2 separate regions of the Homo sapiens genome follow, and region 1 is linked to region 2. A link means that fine-mapping ties the variant in region 2 to the expression of a gene that starts in the linked region. Tissue or cell type: blood mononuclear cells. Region 2 holds a variant in brackets; the other region holds the start of a gene. All regions are shown on one strand. Distances are from middle to middle.

Region 1 (8,133 bases), 130 kb after region 2:
CTCAAAGCTTACCTCCTCAAAGAAACGTTCCTGGACCATCCCCATCCCCCAGCAAAACCACTACCATCAAACCAGAGTAGAATCTCCTGTGAGATGTTCCATAGTATCCTCTACTTTTCATCACTGCTCATACCACAGTTCAAATAGATCATGTCTTCCTAGCTAGAGTATAATCTCATGGAAATCAAGACCATGTATGTCTATTTGCTAACCATGTGTTCTCTGATCATAGCACAATGCTTGGCGTATGAGGAATGAACTACTTAGAACTATCTGCAGATAGGCTTATAAACTTATAAAGTTTCAATTAATTTTTATAGAAACAAAAATAACTCTGGGTTGTTGCAATGTTTTGAAGTGAAAATATAAATTTTTAAAAAACTCTCTAAAATGGTATGTTTCAAAAAGAAAAGTATATGAAGCTGAGGGAAGATTACATAAAACTGAAATCAAAGTTGGATTTCTATTATTGCTCCTCCTGATTATTAAACTGGGGACCACACTTTATAATTTTTAAAGTTTGTTTATTCACTGTCCTTTTGTCAATCTCAAATTATTTCTGAGAATCTAACTTCTACATTTAAACTAGTTTCAAACCTATCTAACATTAATCCTTATATGCATACATCATTTCTAAAATGAATCTAGGGCAATTTTTGAGCATTATTATTATATCTAAGTCTTCCTTCCCATCAACAAAAACAAAACAAAAATTCAAAGTGTCTTTTTTGGGCAGCTCTTTTACAAATCACTAACCAAAATGCCTATTAGCCTAACCAAACATCACTCTTGCAGTTTACTTAATAACGTCATTCTGTTTAGTTATGACAGCTTTTAAACTTGGTAAATTAGAGAATTGGTCACTGTCACTGGTAAAGATGGTTACAAAAATTAAAGACATTAAAACAATTTACCTATTTTAGCAGAAATAATTTACTTTAAGTAACTACATGTAAAATAGTAACCCAAACTTTCAAAGTGTTTCAAAACTGCTGGAACATTTTTAGACAAGACTTAAAAAATCTGCAAAAAACAAACACAGCAACAACAACATCAAACACATGGCAAGGAGAAGAGGAACTCTTTTCCTCTTATAAAAAAGGATTATACCCTATCTCTAGCCAGCATTATAATGATTAATGTGCTGATTTTGTTATATATTACTACTTTTCATATTCCAGAGTAAAAAAAGGAAACATTACAATTGAAAAAACGTTTAAAATAACAAACTTAACCCAAGCTTTCATAAATGAACTATGATAATGAGAAGCTGGAACAATACACACTTTCCAAGATCATATACACTACTTTCTCATGCGCGAAAATGAATATTCTCTTGTTGGAAGTAACATAAAACTTAGTTACTAACAGACTGCAACTGGCAACTTAATTAGGTAATGACGCATGCAAAGTACTTAGCAGAGTGCCTGGTTCATCATAAAGATGAACCATAAAGAAAAGTCATTATTACTAGCAGTGCTTTATTGTGGGAAATTGTTTTTGAACAAGATGTGGCTTCACTACAATACATAAGTGGATTGTGAGCAAGAAATACAGGACTGGAAACAATTGTAGAAACTTAACTGACTCTGTGGAAACCTACTAAAAAGCTTCCAAGTGAAATTTGAACTGTGCAAATAGACTTGTGCAAAATATTTTTGACACACTAATTCTGGTGCATCTCTTTCAACTTCAAACCAACAATATTAAAAACATGTATTATCCACTTCTCAAAGAATTCTCTAGCAAGTAGAAAATTACCGTGCAAAACCACTTCCATTGTATGTTGTAAATCTAAGTGTTGTGTGCATTAGAAATGTAGACACAAACTTCCTATCCCCCACGACTGCAGGAGCCTGTGTCAATCAAATGTCCGCTGCCCCACGCATGCCCCCTGCCAAATGCACATTACGGCAGTAGTTTCATTTTAGGCTCTCTAATTGAAGTGTAAAACTGCCCCCAAACATCTATACTTACTATTTCCCATTCTACCATTTCTTCTTGAGGAAAAATTGCCAGATATTTCAGAAATCTGCTATTTCAGCACAATTTCAGATTTGGCAAGAATCTACTTTGAGATGCTAAAAAGATTAGATGAGCTCATCCTAAAACGATGATTAAATCTTTATGGTTTTAAAAAGCACTCTCCACAAAAACAGAATAGGGACATGTGAGAAAGAGTTTTATCAATACTATGCAAACAATTTTTAAAGGAAGGCATGCAATACACATGCACTTCATTTCTGTACAGTTTGAACCTAGCACGCTTTAAAAAGAGGAAGCTGCCCAGCATCCCACCCCTCCAGAATGTCTAGCATTCCTGGCAGGCAGTACTCTCCTTTGACCAGCCAAAACTACTCTTTGCCAAAGAGCAAGTTCCTCATCCAAGAATTTAAACAAAGAGGGAAGAATGGAGCAACCAAAATGGACAGCCGACGGTGGTAACGACGGACAAAAGATAAACTATAGACAAGAGATACAGTCACAGAGACAGATGGAGAGAAGGGAAGGAGAGCTCAGCTCCTGCCATTAGCAGGTAATATCCTGCCCTCCGAAAACATTTGGGGCCAATACCCTCTGAGAAAGTTTTAAAAAGATAAACATAGAGACAAGAGGCTCGTCAGTCACGAGGGTTCCACCTTGAAACGTCCAACTCCAGCTCACCCGCCCCCCAAAAAATTTTTTTTTTTAATTAAAACTGTCAAACCCCAAAACACGTCCACAATTGAACTGGGACAAACCTCTGAGACTGAGGAAAACTCTCAACGAAACCCAAAAAACACAGACCAGGAGAAAATGCACCACGGAAATCCTAAAATATCTCAGGAATGAGAGCCCAACTGGAGTGAGGGCTGCAGTCAGGGCAGGTGGGAGCGGGAATAGAATCCAGGCAAGAACACAGACCCATAGTGATCAGGAGCACGGATTCCGGAGCAAAAGCGCCTGGGTTTAGGTCCTGACGCTGCCAACCACTAGTCTGTGTGCTTGGGCAGGTTTTTAACCTCGGTTTCCCCGTGTGAACCGAGTCGAACAATCATGGAGTGTTCTGAACATTAAAAGAGTTAAAATGTGCAAAGGCTTCAGAACAGCAGGCGGACCCGTTGTACGCGCTGTGTGCTAACTTTAATTACGATCGTCACCGTCTGCTCCCGGCCACCGCTGGCGTCCTCCCCAGCTCGTCCGCGCCTCCCTCGCCGGGCGCGCCCCTAGCCCCGGCCGGACCCTTCCCGTGGACTCCAGTCCTGGCTCGAGGACACCCGTCCCTAGCGCAGCCTGCCACCGCTTCCACTCGGGGCCGCCCCGCGGGCCTCCCGGACCCTGGACGGCAATTCGCGGGCGCTCGCGCGGGCAACCCCAGCCCGGAGCCACGACCGCCGCGGCCGGAGCAAGCGCCACCTCCTCACACTCACCACGGCGCTCCATCTCGCGTGCCGGACGCGGACGCCCGCCCCACACCTACGGCCGCCGCCACCGCCGAGGGCTGGAGCTCGCTGCCCCCATCCCCCACGGCCTGCGGACGCCCGGCCAAATCTCAGCCGCAGCCGCAGCCGCAGCCACAGCCACAGGCACCACCACCACTGCAGCCGCCACCGCCCCTGCAGCTACCGCCACGGCCGCACCGCCCGCCCGCCAGCCCCGCCCCCTGGAGCCCAGCCCATTGGCCCGCGCTCCCGGGGGCGGGGCCGGCGACCGCGGCAGGTACGGGAGGCAACTAGCTCGCGCGCAGAACGCGACCGTCAGTTGCGCGCGGCCGGACGCTGTCCCAGCATCACGGGCTGCGTCGGCTGCCCTTTTGGCTTGCAGGGGACAGGCAGAGCGACTCAGAGAAAAGTCACCTGAGGACTAGATGCGGCTAATGGCCAGATGAGCAGCTACATTTCTTATGAGACACTTCTGTGGATCGCCTTTTTCCTCCCTCTTCCAGGGGTTAGGGCCTGGGGAAGGGCGCCACACGTCTGAATGAAGAATGAACTACCTCAAAACCAGCCATCTACTCTGCCCCTCTGCCCTCTATGGAGGGTAATAGTTTCCACTTAGGCCTATCTGTATTTTTTTTTTTTTTTTTTTTTTTTTTGGAGACGGAGTCTCGCTCTGTCGCCCAGACGAGTCTAATGGCGTGATCTCGGCTCACTGCAACCTCCGCCTCCCGGGCTCAATTGATTCTCCCACCTCAGCCACCTGAGTAGCTGCGATTATAGGCACCCATTACCACGCCAAGCTAATTTTAGTATTTTTAGTAGAGGCAGGGTTTCGCTATGTTGGCCAAGCTGGTCTCGAATTCCCGACCTCCCGACCTCAGGTGATCCACCCGCCTCAGCCTCCCAAAGTACTGGGATTACAAGCATGAGCCACTGTGCCCGGTCCTTTCTTTCTTAGCTGCACTTTCAAACTCACTTCATAATGAGAAGAAAAAAAAAAGTCTGAGAAAGATGGAATAATTATAGCAAGCAGGGCTAGAAAGCACATAGTCCCTATATCACACCACTCGCTGGAACAAGCGATGGCACTTACCTCAGTGCTGGAACATTCAGAAAGAACTCATAGAGAAACAGAGGAAAAAACACAGGGAGGGAGACTGTGGGTAGCGCTGGGGTCTGCGAGAAAAATGACCACACACGGGAGAAACAGAAAAAGACACAGGAGAATGTGCTGAGGAAAACTGGAAAGAAAATGAGGTGCAGACACAGGAAAAGGGAAGAAAACCAAGGAAGGCAGAAATAAGTGAAGGCAAAAAGAGAAAATAAGGAAGAAAAATAAAAGGAGAGACTACCCACTTAACAAACAGAAAAGTAAGTGAGCATGACAGAACCAAAAGTAGGGTAGCGGGGCAAGAGAAAAACTCATTGACAAAGAAAGAGAAGAGGGACATCTTACATAGACATATCTTTGAACCCTTACAGGAAAAACAATGCTAAGAAAATACAACAAATTTGGCTCCTCAGGTGCTACTTAGAAAAGATAAATAAGAAAACTCAGCTCCTTGGTTACTTTGGCACCATACTGGATTTTTTGGACTCAACTTACACAGATTTTCCCCTCAAATCCCCAAAATAATAGTAACAAGGTCCTGCCACAAATAGGAAACCTCAAAAACCAAAATTCCTTCTAATCGTGCTGAAAAAGAAAAATGCGCCAAGGACTCTCACCATGGAAGCCAATGATGCCTGAACTGAAGCAAACTAATAAGAGGAGACAAAGGAGTCCCCAGGCCAAGGGGAGGCTGAACAGTGCAACTACGATTCAATCATAAGTAAGGTTTTTGGAAGGAAATTTTTGAGGAAGTCCCTCAACCTCAAACACCCTCTTAAGTCTATTTTAAAATATATTATTTTGCACTTATACACCATTTCCCTTAATAAAGAGGACTGTGTTGCTGACTAAAATGGAACTGGAAGCATCACTGACAAAATCATGAACAAGTTCCTGATGGAGAGAGAGGGTGTATGGATGGAGGTGGGGGTGTGACAAAGAGAAAGGAGCTCACAAGGAGGAGAGAAAAGCAGGGAAAGAGAGACAAAGGGAGAGACAAATATGTGAGAAGGAAAGAGAGACAACAATAAAGGAGAAAGAAAGACAAGAGGGAAAGAAGAAAGAAATATGCAGAGATAAGGGGAAGCAGAGAAAGAAAATGAGATGGAGAGAGATAAGGAAGATAAAAGAGACAAACAGAGGTGATAGAGACTACCCACCGATAGAGAAAGGAAAGAGGGTCATTTCTCACATGCAAACAGTTCTGGGGGAAATGAAGCCAATTAGGCTCTGAGGTTTTACCTTAAAAATACAAACATAAGAATCCAAGGCTCCTTGATTACCTGCTTCCACAATTATTTTTCAGACTTAATTTTTAAAATTTTTTCCATTACACCTCAAACCTAACAGTACTAATATGACAAGCAGTACTGAAGACACCTAAAAAACAAAGACTCCTTCAAACCCCACTGGAGAATGATGCACCATGGACACTCACCCAGTGATGACTCAAAACTGAAGGACATCAGTGGGGGATGAAGAAAGAATTCTGAAGGCCAAGGAGAGTGGGGTTGGACAACTCTCAGGGAGCTCAAGGAAGCAAAGTCTGTCCCTCATAGCTGCTCTGGGTTATTCTCAACACCCCCTAAACCAGAACTACCCCTAAACCATCCCAAAACAACCAACTACTGTGCATAGGATCTGACACAGAGTCACAATAGTTGGCTATTTGGGAATCGAGGAATGTTACTTAGAAGGTTAAATAAACTATAAGTAAGGTTGTCTAAGGGAAATTTTGAGAAGTCTCTCAATCTCAATCCTCCTCTTAAACCTTTAAAAAAATACATTATCTGCCATCCTTCATCCAGAGGATGATGACATTTGGAAATATTTGCAAAAATGGTAGTTTACTTTTAATTTAAAAGGGTTATTTTATTAATCTCCCCTGACTTGATTTTGTTTGAAGTAATTTATCACACAAATACACTTTAAATATGAAAAGCACATTAATAGATGCAATAATACCTTTCTGCAAGTCCGAAATTCTTGGTCTATAATAAAATTGTAGTGTTCAGAAAAAAAGAGTAAAACCATCAGTATATCTACCATAGCAGTCCAATAGCTTAAGTTTTTCAACAAGTTGCAGAAAAACATTTCTGGAAGCAACATATAATTTTTTTTAAATACTTGTGTTTTTACCATTTATATTACTATTGCCTCTAGTATTTTTTCCTTCTCAAACAGAAATTCACATCCTCTATGACACTGTTCAAGTCAGCCATTCGGTGCAGCCTTAACTTTTATATTCCCCAAATCTTCCTCATGTGTTCTCTTCAAAATGTTTGTGGTACCAGACTGCACAGATTAGTATTCTTTCTATCTGCAGTGGTGACATTACCAGTACTGTTAATTTTACTTCATCTTCCTGAAGACAATTCTGTAGTTTAGGTAGCCTACTTTTCATAGCAGAACATGGGTCTAAAAACATTTGACAATATCTGGAGACATTTTTTGTTGTCATAACTGGGGAGGGGGATTCTACTGACATCTAGTGGGCAGAGGACAGGGATACTGCTAAACTTCCTACATGCATAGGACTACCCTCATCCCCAAGAAAGAATTATCCTGCCCAAAAGGTCAATAGTGTCAAGGTGAAACACCCTGTTCTATATCCAATTACCACTTTATAAAAAACTATAAGACCTAAGAACTTGTTAAATTATGCCACAGTATATACCCAGAAAAATCTGGACTGTGGGCCATTTTATAGCATAAACGTGATTTCTTCAACAAATAAACTGCAGGAAAAAAGATGGAAAGAAAAATCTCTAGATTATCCTTAAAAGATATATCAAATGCAGCCAGGTGCGGTGGCTCACGCCTGTAATCCCAGCACGTTGGGAGGCCGAGGCGGGCGGATCACCTGAGGTCAGGAGTTTGAGACCAGCTTGGCTAATATGGTGAAACCCCATTTCTACTAAAAATACAAAAAATTAGCCGGGCGTGGTGGCGTGCACATGTAATCCCAGCTACTCGGGAGGCTAAGGCAGTAGAATCGCTTGAACCTGGGAGGTAGAGGTTGCAGTGAGCCAAGATCACACCACTGCACTCCAGCTTGGGCAACAAGAGCAAAACTCCGTCTCAAAAAATAGTAATTTTATATATAATTATATATATATCTTATATATATAATTATATATGATATATATAATTTATATATGTAATTATATATGATATATAATTTATATATAATATATATTTATATATATATATATAAAATCAAATGGAGGAATAAATAAAAACAGACATACTCTTCCCTGTAGTAAACAACTAGAAAAATGGACAAAATATATATTGTTTTCAGACACCGAACTACACACCGCACTGGGCTCAGGGCTGTCATCTCTGAGAGATGGGATCATAAACAAATGAGGTAAGCCCCACAATTACCCCAACTTTCTGCCTAAAGTCACATTCTTGACCATAGCACCCTTGACAACTTGAAGAGACAGAGATCATGGTTCCAGGAGATTGGAGTTGCCAGAATCTGTAGGACAGAGTACCAGAGACTAAGGATGTAGAAAAAGAAAGAGCTCCAGAAATTTGCATAGGGAATTTCTTAATTATCTTGCTGAACACCAAGATGCACATGTATACAGCAAA
Region 2 (8,023 bases):
AGGAAAACAGCCAGAGTCGATTGGAAACACTTGTAACTCAACTCTCAGAGGAAGGTTCTGTTCTTGGGGTCTCTGGGAGCCCCTAGAGGTGAGGCTCTTGCCAGTGGGCTGCCCCCAACACATTGACTGCTGAAGCAGCTGGGCCCAATTTAGTAAGAAGGTGGAAAAAGTTAGCCAGGGCTGGATGGGGGTGTCAGATGCTTTGTGGGGTTGGTCTAGGACAGTGCTTCTCATTGAGGTGGGGCTGGGGAACTGAAACAGGGGAATTTCATCCTCCTGGAAATATTTGGCAAGATCTAAAGACATTTCTGGGTGTCACAACTGGGGAGGTGCTGGTGGGTAGAGGCCAGAGATGCTGCTAAACATCCTGCAAGGCCCAAGACACTCCTCCCTCCCCCACACAAAGGATTATCTAGCCCCAAGTGTCAGTGATGCTGAGGCTGAGAAACTCTGGTCTAGGATTGGAGGAGACACGTGCTCTTCCCACACCGCAGCTGTCACAGGGTAGAGGACCCCTCTGGGTGTTTCTATCATCTCAGCTTGGGCTGAGATGCTCAGGGCACTGACATGGACTAAGAGAAATGAGTTGGGGCCATTAAGGGCAGGAAAAGCTCCAGGTAGAAAGAGGAGAGCCAGGCACATGCCGGGGCTTGCCTGATGAGCCCTAGTCAAGCTCCCTCCAGCTCCTCTCAACACCTGTGGGAAGCAGGGTTTCTTTATAAGGAGGCATAAAGAACACCTAACAGTTAAGGTGACCTTGGGGCAAGTGATTGAGCCTGTCCCCGTGTCTGCATTTTCCACATCTACCTCATAGGATTGTTGATGCGGGGTAAGGAATGTGAAGTGCTTAGCTCCCAGGCCTCAAAACAGCACTCAATAAATGCTTATTATGATCGAATTAATATAATTCTTACCCCTCCTGGGAGATTCACACAAGCACCCTCCTCCTCGGCTGGCTTCCAGGGCCAATGCTTGGCCTCAACCCTGCTAGTGCTATAGTTCATGAGGCTCTGGCCAGAGAAGAGCCTTATGGGCCTGGATGTCTACGAAGGGACTTCAACACAAAGGGAAAGCACTGGGGTGCGTGAAAATGCCAATCTCTTCACCCCGAGTGCTTCAGGGGCATGGGTGACTGTTTATCTCCCAGTTCTTCTCTAACTAGCTTTAACCATCACATGTCCCCATTCTTTCCTGGTCCCAATTCCACGGCATCCCATCCTCTTCCTCTCCAAATTCTCCCCTCCCCCAGTGGCCAAGAGGCCTGCCCCTGTGTGCTGGACAGCCACCCTTCTCATCCCCAGGTTGTGCCTTTCCCTGAACAGCACCATATCCGGATTTATGTTGCAGCTAGTTTCCTCTGGAAGGGTCTTGCGCCAACCCCACAGGCCTGTCCATGCAGCTGGGGCAGGGGAAGCCGGTCTTGAAGTTCGACCACACAGTGGCACAGTGGCTTCTCTCACAGTAATGGGTTCCCTGAGAGTGGTGCCCACTGTCACTCCCCTTTGCATAGGAAAGATCCAAGGACTTTGGGGAAAGCTGGACACAGGGCCCGAAGGGAGGAGGAGGGCTCTGAGAAGGGCTGCTCCCTTATATTCTAGTCTTCCCTCTTCAAAAACATAAATCCGGCTGTCTTCCAAACCCAGCCCTCCTGCTTTTCCTCCTGTCCCTGGGTGCCAGCTCCATTGTTCTTTTCCCAATTACCCCTTCATACACAGCCTTGTACACTCTCACTCCACCAACACCATCCCCAACACACGCACACACACACGCATGCACACACATGCACACACACATGCACACATGCGCACACATGCACACGCACGCATATGCAGACATACACACATGGGAGATCTCTTGAGAGTTGGGGGCTATGGCTCCTGCTTTTATTATACTCCTCATTGTACCTAGCAATGCTGGGTGCACAGATGCAAGCCCTTGAAGTCACCTCTCTCTGACACCCAGCATTAAAGACTGACATCCAATCAGAGTCTCAATAAATGTCTGTTGAATGACATGAGGCATTCAGTAAATAACTGTTGTCTTGACCTGACAGTCAGGACTCCATTTGACTGTTTATCTCTTCGTTATTCTTTAACTCACTCACCTGACCTTACATACAAATATCTTGCTGGGGAGAAGGGGCAAAACAAGAAAAGCTGGGAGTGATGTTGCCCAGGCTTGGCACACAAGACCACCCAGGAGACAGGGCTGCTGTGGCTCTGGGGGGGAAGGGGGAGTGTGCTGGCTTCTGGTACACCTGAGGAGGGCGGGGGCCCAGGTGAAGAGGAGGCCGATACCAGACAGAAGCTTCCCTAGACTCCTGAGGGAGAAATGTGAACTGGGAGCCTGAGGAAAGAAAAATAAATTTCGTTTAAAATGTGGTTCTTCTTGTTCCCTTCCCTGGGAAGATTAGAGGCTTGGGGGTGGGGCTGCTGAGGCCCCAGGAGCTGAGGGTGGGGGTGGGAGGGAAGCCAGGAGAATGTAGGAGGCTCCCGGGAAGAAGGTGTTTTAAAGATGATTGAGAGACCACAGAGCTTGCTTCGAGGGAGAGGGAAGGGGGCTCCATGCCTGGTCTTTTACCATTAATCCTCCCTGCTGAGAATGCAGTACTGCAGGTTTGCCATGAAAGAAAACCTCTGCCTGGGTCAACCAGCGGCATACCTTCCCAGGTGGCTGTGCAGAAGCACGCACCAGCACCAGCCCCGCCACCCCCACCCGCTCGCTTTCAAAGGTGGGCTCTTCTGCCACATTGGCCTGAGGAGTCCGTGCTCACAGTGAGCAGCGCCCCGGTGAATCTCAACAGACTGAAACAGCCTGTGTTCCTGACAGTGCCCTTCAGGCCCTGGCCTGGGATTTCCTCAAAGACCGTGTCCCTTACTTGGGGATGGACCCCTGTTCCCTCTCACAGCCTCTAAGGCCAGGGATCTTGCAGAGCCCCCATTCCTAGGGGGCCGTGGCCAACCTTTCCTGAGCCCTTGTCCCCAGATTTGCTCTGTTAGGGACTTCTCACAGCCCGAAGCCTGCAGAAGGAACCGCCTGCATACCAATTCAAAATCAGTCCTGCTCTGGGGTTAAGAAGTAGTGATTTTGGTTCTCATATCCACATTGTAAAAGCCACAGAG[A/G]AACTGTGGTTTGAAATTACTTCCTTCACACTTCCTCCCAGCAGGACTCAATCTGATGATCAGGCACTTAAGTGAAATGTCTGCCTCATCATCAAACCCACTGGATGCATGAGGTATGTCATCCCGCCAGGAGCTGGACAGCCCACGTCTGCATCTGTTTGTTTAAATTAGGAAAAAAACACCTTCTGGTTGGTACACAGGGGAAGGGGGATTTCTTACTATTAAAATGGTAATTGTACTCATACCATATAAGGTTCCTCAAACTTGGGCTCACTAAAATAAACTTCTACCCAGGGCAACAAAGAATGGAGTGTTTGTAATGCAGTTTGTAGAAGTTACTACATAAAATCTATGGTTTACTAGTTTGAAACAATGAGAACGTAATTCAGCATCTTCATACACCAATCTGGTCATACGCCTGTCCTTTCTCACTTGGATGGGGAGAGAGGGCTTCAGAAGGTGGCCAGATGGGAGGAGGATCAGATTCTCCTCGGAGAAGTTTCCCCTGTTGACTCTCCTGTGCTCCTGAATCCCCTCCTTCCCTCCACTGGGCCCCACACGCGCTGTGGTCATTTTCTGCTCACTCATCTCTCACCTTCTGCCCTGTGAGCCCTCTGAGGGCTGGCATTTGCCTGACTCATCTCTCCACCCCCAGAGACTAGCCCAGTGCCTGGCTCACAGGAGGCACTGAAGGTCGACTGAATGTTGAAGGAGCTGCACGCATGCACGGGAAGGTGCCCCCGGGGCTGATTTCAACCATTCTCCCACATTTCTTGTTTGGAACCTGCAGCAGAAGCTGTTCTATCAATACAGCCTCTCCCATTCCCCTGGTAGACCCCTTGGTGACCCCTTTCTCATCCCTGTTAACCTCTAAGGTCATCCTTAGAGTCAACTCCCTAATCCTAGGAGCACACATCTCCCAGAAGCCCCTAACAGCTGCTTTCGTGGCCTCTGAGCCCCGTTTCCTGGGCAATCTCCCCCAGAGCAGCCTTTCCTCAGAGGGCACGCTCCACACCCAAAGCTGCAGCAACCCCTGGATTTTGGGGGGCTTTACTTCCTCACGACCACTCTTTTCCTCTGCTCTTGCAAGTGGGATCCAGTGGCCATGTCCAGTCCCTCTAGCCATCCACAGAGGAGCCTACTACACACGTGACAGCACACAACACCCACTCACACTTTGTAAAGGCACATTGGTGTTATTACTTTCGGATTGTTTCTTGTTCTTCTCCTGGGGAGGAGAGACACAGGAGAGGGAGCCTCTTCATCCTTTCTCTTCACTCTTCCTGACTCCAGGTGGCTCCCACCCTGGTGCCCAGCTCCTGCCATCTTCCTGCACAACCGTGGTGTCCGTGTGGGGCCAACATCATCACCTCCCATTTCCTCCTTCCCCTCACCATGCACCTGCACCTTTGCCCCACTTCACCATGGCCGCATCTGGGGGCCAGTCATCACCCACCCTACCTTCGAAATCCTGAATTCACATATTTCACTTTCTGACCACAGCCATTAACCTTTTCATCTTGTTCATTTTCTCAATCACTTAAACAGGGTCATGGCACCCACTGAGACTTCTATTCCCTTGCCTCTTCATTTCCCCCAGTCCATTTCCGTGCTCATCTGCCTTCTCATCCTTCCTCGTGCAGCCTGGACTTGATGCATGTAGTCCAGTCCCTGCCTTCAGCCCGCTGCCTGTTGACCTTCTGTGGTGCCTCCATACACACCCCCAGCCCTGCATCACCCACTCTCCACTTGCTCTGCCTCGGGGCCTGGGTGCTAAATATTACTGGGAGAAATAGTACAATTATGCATATTTATGTCATGATAATACATGATCTCTGACCTCCCTGGCTCCTTAATGATAGTTGGCCTTGCTGCTTCATGTTCCTGGTTAGCTCTCGCTCTAGAACTCTGTGAGAGTTGCTCTATATCTTTACGAAACTCTGTAAACTCGTCTCCCCTGCTTCTAGCCCTTGACCTAGCCTCATACTTCCCATAGTGCCATCTCTCTTAGCATTCTTTCTGTCTCTAGACTTAACGTGGATGAGACCTTTCCTGCCTTCCTTCCCAACTTCCTACCTTCCAGGCTTCTGTGGAGGAAGAGGCATCTTCACCAAGGTGATGTTCAAGCCGCCTCCAGACCCCATCCCTTCCTGCCTCCGCTAGTATATTTTTCACCAACTCTCCCTGTTCTTTCCTATATCTTCAGTCTCTCCATAGGTGAGGGAAATGATGCTTGAGAGCACTGCAGTCATGCTTACCTGCAATTCTCTCCGGGTGAGTCCGGAGGGTGTCCATGAATTGGGACAAGATGTGTAGCTCTGTCCAAATACGGCCAAGGTGCTGGCTCTCTGGTGCATTCATGAGGAGTTCTTGAAAATCTCGATATACCCTTGCCAAGCTGTAAGGACAAAGCCTCATTAATAAGGAAATAGCTGTTATTTTTATAACAGTAATAATATCTCATGCTATTTTTTTTTTTTATCTCGCTCTGTCACCCAGGCTGGAGTGCAGTGGCGTGATCTCGGCTCACTGCAAGCTCTGCCCCCCGGGTTCACGCTATTCTCCTGCCTCAGCCTCCCGAGTAGCTGGGACTACAGGCGCCCGCCACCACACCCAGCTAATTTTTTATATTTTTAGTAGAGACGGGGCTTCATCGTGTTAGCCAGGATGGTCTCGATCTCCTGACCTCGTGATCCACCCGCCTCAGCCTCCCAAAGTGCTGGGATTACAGGCATGAGCCACCGTGCTTGGCCATCTCATGCTATATTTAAAGATACTATGTGTCTGGCCTAGCTACTACATTGAGTATCCTTACAATACTGCCAAGGCAGGAGAAAGAGATAATTTTACTTCCTTGTACATATAGGCTAACTGACAAGGATGGTGAGCGATCTATTCAGTCTCCCAGTTTTGGCAGGGTCTGCTCGCCTCTCGGTCCCATGCTCTGTGTGTCTCTTGCCCAGAGAAGCCTTAAACAGGGTGACATTGGTGGATATCACTGGAGGGTTTATCCAGTTTTTACCCAATTCTCTGAGACCTGCCCTTCCACCCATTCACGCAGGTAGGCTCTGACAGCCATGCTTCATCCACAAGGACCTCCCTGCACACACACATTGGCACGCATGCACATGCACGCCTCTGCCAAGGCTGATGGGACAGGGAGAATAAAGCTGGGTCAACCCGATTTGTTCCCAGGAATTTGGATGGTGTTCAGAGATGAGCTTCTGATTGCCCAGGCCGAGGTATTGTGAATTGCATGAACAATGGCAGCCCAGGCATTGAGGAGCAGGGGAGACTGGTCCATGGAGAGAGGTGAATGGAGTAGATACAGAGGCCAGGGCTGGCAGGCCCAGATGGAAGAGAGTTGAGGAAGCAGCTCCTGACAGCTCTCCAGGTCTTGGCCTGCCTCTCCTGAGCCCCGCCTTGCTGCCCTTGGCTCTGTGAGAATGTCTAGTATCCAAATCATAGATTTCCTTCTGGGGTTTAAGATTGCTTGAATGGGTTTCCGTGCCTTGCAAGCAAAAGAACCTTGAATAAGCCAATATTTCACTCATAATGTGAGTGCAAAACATGAAACCCAACTTTCCGGGTTCAAATGCCAAGTACAGCTAGAGTCTGGAGCCCCCTTCTCCAACTCCCACCCCTCAGTTTTCCGCAATAACATCTATAGACACTGCCAGGGCCGTTCCCACCAAAGCTCCATGCAGCCTCCACTGAGCTGTCTTCAGGCCTCCCTGATCCCACCATGTGACCCCACACGATCTCTCTGGATGGGCAGGTGTTTCTTAAGCTGAAAGTGCAGTTGTAAACTAAAACTGCAAGGCAGTGCTTGCAGCAATATGAGTCCTGCTAAATGCCACTTCCTTGACTTTGCTAGGAAGACAGATGTTTCCTCTTCTATCATCTGGTAATCCAGGGGTCAGCAAACATAAAAATTACAGGCTTACAGATCATACAGTCTCTATCACAACTACTCAACTCTGCCATTGTAGGGCACATGCAGCCATAGTTTGTTCACAGTGGGGAAGGCCACCTCCAATCATTAGGTTGACCTATCAAACTTTTTTTCTTTTTAGTCTAAAAGCAGGCTTCTCCTGGAAGAATCATACTGAGCTCCCCCAAGGAAAAAACTAAAGTAACCAGGTATCTCAGTTTTCACCTAGCCTGGTGTTTATACAGGTCGGGTAAAGCCTGCTCCCCAACAGGCCTTTGCTGGTGGCCTTCAGGTATGGGCTGCACAAGGTGCTGCTTAAGGTCAGCACAGTGGGTGAGGGATGGCCCTGTCCACACCCTAAGCCTCTGTCTCTAGAATATGCTCCCATGATGTTCTCCCAATGCTCTGAAAGGGAATTCCGAAGGCAGACCCTCTTCCTGTGGGATTCGACTTGAATTTTGACCCTAGACCTGAGGCTACTAACCTGGCATCTACAATTCCCTGAAATCAGATGTACAGTGTAATGTTTGGTATGTGGCCATTTTTCTTGGAAGAGGGGTCATTGGTTTTCATCAGCTTTTCAGAATAGCCTGCAGGCCCACAGTGAAGAGCCACTGCACCCGAGCCATATTCCGAGATCTCACCACTCCAGGGGGCCGATGGCAATTATAACAGAGGATTTGGAAATTGTATTTTTCTCCCAAGAAGTAAACTTGACTTTGTAAACCTGACTTCATTTACCTTCCCAATGCTCCCTGACATTTTTCCTAGCCCTTAGATGTCCAAGAAAGCTTTTAAAGGAAGAGAGATCTGTCCAGGTTGATCAGGGTGAGGGAACTGAGTTTTTCTCCTACAATGATTCACTCCACCCAAGCAGGTCAATGACCAGAAGGCAGTGGACACATCTCTGCAGCGGGCTGCCATCAGACTCCAGGTCACATTCTGGGGATATAAGGACCAAGAAATT

The links. PIP is the estimated chance that this variant, and not a neighbour inherited with it, causes the effect.
Region 1: ARHGAP29 starts here. The variant in region 2 is fine-mapped to the expression of ARHGAP29 in blood mononuclear cells (TOPMed, PIP 0.97).

The regions. Positions count from the first base shown.
Region 1 is chr1:94,234,005-94,242,137 of GRCh38, forward strand. It overlaps ARHGAP29 (Rho GTPase activating protein 29), which reads right to left and starts at 3,580. Exons shown (of 23, transcript NM_004815.4): 1 at 3,411-3,580. RefSeq lists silencers at 3,304-3,543, 3,554-3,783.
Region 2 is chr1:94,103,197-94,111,219 of GRCh38, forward strand. ABCA4 (ATP binding cassette subfamily A member 4) reads right to left here. Exons shown (of 50, transcript NM_000350.3): 4 at 5,381-5,520. Among named protein-coding and RNA genes, the nearest start is that of ABCA4, 14 kb to the right of the region's middle. RefSeq lists enhancers at 3,307-3,808, 3,809-4,308. The variant A/G (reference allele first, on the strand shown) is at 3,123.